Regions from separate parts of the Homo sapiens genome. Here region 1 is linked to region 2. The links come from fine-mapping of genetic effects on gene expression. Tissue or cell type: whole blood. Region 2 holds a variant in brackets; the other region holds the start of a gene. All regions are shown on one strand. Distances are from middle to middle.

The links. PIP is the estimated chance that this variant, and not a neighbour inherited with it, causes the effect.
Region 1: EPDR1 starts here. The variant in region 2 is fine-mapped to the expression of EPDR1 in whole blood (INTERVAL, PIP above 0.99).

What each region holds. Positions count from the first base shown.
Region 1 is chr7:37,919,273-37,921,958 of GRCh38, reverse strand. It overlaps EPDR1 (ependymin related 1), which reads right to left and starts at 1,319. Exons shown (of 3, transcript NM_017549.5): 1 at 751-1,319. The coding sequence starts at 1,019. RefSeq lists a silencer at 625-1,074.
Region 2 is chr7:37,984,691-37,987,376 of GRCh38, reverse strand. No RefSeq gene overlaps it. Among named protein-coding and RNA genes, the nearest start is that of EPDR1, 65 kb to the right of the region's middle. RefSeq lists an enhancer at 1-491. The variant G/A (reference allele first, on the strand shown) is at 1,654.

The DNA.
Region 1 (2,686 bases), 65 kb after region 2:
TACTTAAAAGAAACTTACAGCTTTGCCCCTGTAAGCGATACTGTGCAGCCATTAAAAATAGGAGGCAAGCTAATAAAATGGCAAATAAGAACATATAAGGGACAATGTTAAGTTAAAAAAAGATTCAGATAACGTATGGCTTTTGATCATAGTATGTAAAATTTGCTTTAAAATAAACAAAAAACTTAAAAGGAGTAGACCAAAATTTTAATGCTGTAACAATTTGCTAAGTTTGTGGGTGAAATTTTCTTTTTATCACTTTCCCATACCGTTTGTAATCTTGCCATATTCTTTTAAAATACAAAAAGTATTTCTTAGAAAATACATATTCTGCGTGCCTCTCTAGCAGATGTCTCTAGAAAGAAATGAGATAGCGCAGAAGACACGCCCTAGACTGCAGGGGGCTCCATGAGCCCAGAGCCTGACTCAGCAGCGTGAGAACAGGGGCGAACCTGGGCATGGGGCACTCTGCAGCTTGATCCCGCCCTGGATGGGTCCCTTCTTTACCTGCCACCGCCTCGCTGGGTGTTACTGAGTCCCCCGCCAGCAGGCCGCCCTCGGTGGGCGCAGCGCCCCTCCCAGTCCCGGACCATGCTATCCCCAAGAGACCCTCCTCGCGAAAGATCTCTCTGGGAGAAGGGAGGAGCTGCAAGGGGCCGGAAAGAGTTACAGGGCGCAGGCCTCTGCGACCTCGCCCTCCCCATGCCCGCGCGGCTCCCTACTCCCGCCCCGCGGGCCGATGACCTGTACCTCTTGCAGGGGATCAGCGCCTTCCTCTCGTCCAGCACCCGCACGCGCTGGTTGAGCCCGTCGTAGGAGAGCAGGGCGCGGCTGTTGCGCCCGCTACTTTGCTGGTACATAACCTGGCGCCCCTCCCACTGCTGCGGCGCCTGGCACGGGCGCGGGGCTCCCACCGCCCCCAGGCTGCACAGGCCGCACAGGGTCCAGGCCCAGAGGCCGCCCAGCAGCCAGGCACCCAGGGCGCCCGGGACGGTGCGGAGGGGAGCGCGTCCTGGCATCGCGGTCAGCCTTCCCCGGCCCGAGGGCAAGCCCAAGCCCAAGGGGGCGCTGAGGCGTCCGGGATCAGAGTGGCTCCCGCCGGCTCTTTCCGCACTGTGCCGGGAGTGTGGTCTGGACCAAAGTGCTTCCTGTCCCTTCGGTGGCCTCTGCCGCTTTTGAGATCCGGACGCGCGAGTCCCGGTAGCCGGGACCAGGGCCCGGGGAAGGCTCCAGTGAATCGCGCGGGAGCTATTTCTGCCTGGGCCACTGCCTGCTGCCACTGCCTGCTGCCACTGCCTTCTGCCGCTTCGGTTTTCACTGCTCACTGCTGCCAACAGGAAATGCAGTGGCAGTGGTGCCACTAGCATCCTGGGAGGCATCGTGTTTTAAGAGGGGGGATGGGGGGAGACTGTGCTGAGAAGTGTGTTTCTCCACTAACTTCAGTGTTCAACAGGTAATCACACAGGGAGGGGCAAGTTCAAGGTCAAGATAGGAAAAGCAGAGCTGCTGCGTTTGCTGTGCAAACGTTTGCCCCGCCTACATTGCCCCTCGACAAAATTGCAAACTTCTTCCTCCAAATTAAAAGTGGAAAGACGAGTCTTTTCCTGAAGAAATGATACTAGCTATTCATCATGGCCGCTCCTCAGCTCCCATTCCCAGTGAAGAGTCTAGGAGACTAGTAGACAGCCCCTTGCATTGGGCCTAGGACTCATGGACATAGCCTCAAGGTCACATTGCAGTGAGACTGCTCCTCCCATCGCCTGGCAATACCACCAGCCGAGTGGTTTGGGTGTCTGGGGGGTTTCGCTTCTTCAAGAATAAGGTTAATTGGGTTTATAGTTATGTAATGTTAGGATCTATAATATGGAATGAGCGAGGCTCACACACCTGTAGTCCCAGCTACTCCTGAGGCTGAAGTGGGAGGATCGCTTGAGCCCAGGAGTTAGAGGTTGCAGTGAGCTATGATCATGCCACTGCACTCCATCCAGCCTGGGTGACATGGCGAGACCCTGTCTCTAAAAATATAGTGATAAAGTATGAAATCAAGAAAAAAGAAAGGAACTAAAAAAATGTATAGCGTCTTTCCATTTGAACTGCATTTCAAGGATGATTAAGATTGAGCCAGGTGAAAGTGGGAGATAACATTCCTGAATGAAGGGCATAAGGACAAGAAAAGAATAATGCTGGGGTTCAAGGACAAGGTAGAGGAGTACTCTGAAGCCATAGCACTCATTTTAAGGAATTTGTCATTGATATTGAGGACTGTGGGAACTATCAATCAATGTAAAGCTAGGGAGGAGCATCATCAGGCATATGCTTTAGAAAGCCCACTTAGACAACAGAAAGGGTAGGGCCAGAGGGAAGGCAGGGAGAGGAGGAAGCTACTGTTATCATCCTGGAAAGAGATGATCCTGACTCAGCTAAGGCAGCGGGAGTGGTCATGGAAAGGGTGGAAGACAGGTGGGAGCTGTAGAGAAGCATTTCAACTCAGAGAGAGAGGTTTCTGGTTTGGGCCACTGGGAATCCAGTCCTGAGTGAGGAGAGATGATCAATTCATTTTAGGATTGGTTGATCTTGAGCTGACTGTGGAGTATTAAGGTGGAAATATCCAAGGGACAGCTGGATAAATACTTCTGGAAACCAGCAGAGCTTTTGGATTAGGAAGCCATAGGTACATAGGTGGTAA
Region 2 (2,686 bases):
GAGATGTTAGTTCAGTGATGTTGTTTCAGCATTCAGGCCAACAAAGGCAGTTGAAGAGGAATGCATGCCGGGTGTCCTAGAGTTCAGCAAAAAAGGACTTGCTCTAGGGGAGGAATTATGAACAAGAGGCTCCAGCTGAGCTAGAAGATGGTGCCCAGCAGGAGGGAAGTGGAACAGACAGATTCCTGCTCTTTTAGAGCTTCAACGATGAAGTCTATTGTTCTGTGGTTTGAGGAACACTCATCATTCACCATAGCTGGTTGACATCATTTACTAAGTTGAATCAAGTACAAAAGGAAAAAGTTCTTTATGATAGGCCAGATTCCATGAGTGGGAATTCCTTGGAGTGAAACAGGGAGAAAATACGCCCCAGTGTTAAAGACTTTCCAGAGATTTTTTCCATTCCACTTTCCACCCCTCCCTAAATCACTCGCCAAAGAAATGCTTTGCTGGACACTAAAGTGGCCACAGCTGTGCTCATAAGAAAACATCAGAATATAAAATTAATCGTTGTATTTTTTAGTTAACCTTTTTGGAGTGTGTGTGCAGGGTTAAAGGACAGGTGCTATTAAGATGATAGACATCTTTGAAATGTTTGGAAGTACTGCCAGTTTCTATGACCAAAAGCTTTCCAAACAGCTGTAATTATTTGAAGGTCAATGAACTAAAAGTTTCCCTGTATTAGCTTTAGGCAAAAAGGTCATTAATGCTTTAGGGGACTGTAATAAATCTGAAAGAAGCTGGCTTGACCCTCCCCTTCTGCAGTTCTCTATCTGATCACCCTGAGATCCTTTTCAACTCCAGCTTCCTGGGAGGCCAGAGATGAGCCAGTGACTGACTCCTTGACCAGCCACACAGGGCCTAGAGTTGTACCCTACCTGGATTGGCGAGGTCTTCCATGACTTATGTAGCCTCATCCTCAGATGAGGACCACCACCCAATCCCCTCAAAAAGCCTGAAATCAGTCTTCTATGCTAGGTGTGAAAAAAAGAGAGGTAATTACACTGTTTTATTCCATCAGTGTTTGAAAAAAGTGCACAACTTCTATGCAGGCATCCCAAAGCATCTAGGATTGCAGGGATGGATAGAAAGTCCTTCAATCACAACAGAATTCCTATTTGGCTCTTTAAAAAAGGAGACAGGACAGGCTGACAGATGCTACGGTGCTTAGACCCACATGTTGTCCACAAAATTGGGATTATCCTCTAATTCTAAAGGTATAGCTTTGGTGACCGTTTTGCCATTGGTGCCATCTCTCAGGAACCTGATAATAAACTACAATGTTTTAAACTTGTACTATATCCAGGAGCTATGTAGATATATAAAATATTTTCTTATTTAAATTCCACATGTGTACAATGTAGGTATTATTTTCATTGCACCAATATGATAGATGAGACAATAATTTTCTCAAAGACACTCAATTAAGTTGGCTGACTGCAAAGAGTTTTAGGCAATAAGATTTACATTCTTTACCTTTAGCTTATCATCTTCCAAAGATGATGCTTTAATCATTGTCAGCTGGTTATTGATCATATTGTTCTTTGAGCCCATCCCCATGGGATTTGAAAAATCTGCTTCTAAGCATATCTGGAACTTTTTTACATTTTCCTTTTTTTTTTTTTAAGATGGAAGTCTCCACTATGCTGCCCA[G/A]GCTGGAGTGCCATGGTTATTCACAGGAGTGATCGTAGAGCATTATAGCTTCAAACTCCTGGCCTCAAGAGATCCTCCTGCCTCAGCATCCTGAGTACAGCGTACAGGCATGTGCTACCATGCCCAGCCATATCCTGAGGTTTTCACTTACAATAACTGAAGCTCTTACCTTGCCACCTCAGGCCATCTACTAAAAAGGCATAGATATTATTTCAGGGAAAGAAATGCCTGGCTGCAAATATTTTCCTTCAACTGACTTGATAGTTCTGTTAGTGTCTTCCAAGCATAGTTTTCAATTCAGGGCTCATGCAATACTCTTTATCTATTGTGTCTTTGTTTTCAATAGTAATAATATATGAACTTAGAATAAATATGCTCTTCTTTTAAGAATTTACAATTGTGTGTGAATACAAAGACTGCAAAATATATTAAAGAGATTTATTATGTAAGAGATTCATTATGAAAGAGTTTAAAGATGAAAGAAATTCATCAAAGCGTTTGTATATTTCAAGAAGAAAGTATGACATCATCCAAATACATACATATTGCTAGGTTAAATATTATTTCCACCACAAGATAAAAATCTATCCTCCTCTGTGCTAGTGTAAAACTCAGGAGTTGGCTTCTTCAGCTGCCCTTGGCTCTGAAATCTTCAACTGGCCACCCTTAGGGTTCCAAACACACACCCAACCTCACGCCCCACGCAGAGTTACTTTGCGTCCACACAGCTGAGCTCCATGTGGTGTTTTAACGGTCATAGGATCTAATTCCCACATCCTCTTCTGAGAGCTGAGATTTATGATCCCAATAAAGATTTTGACAGAAAGATGAGAAGAACTTAGTTTAAAATGTTGCCCTGAAATTCCCTACTCATCACCCCATTAATCACAGATTAAAATAAAAGCACATATGAGCTAATATCACAGGGTCTAACAGGGTGAATATGTTTTGGAATTAGCAACAATCCCTTAATAACAATGTATTATCTCTGAAATTCCCTTTCAGAACAGTGACCTTGGTTTGAAATTTAAAA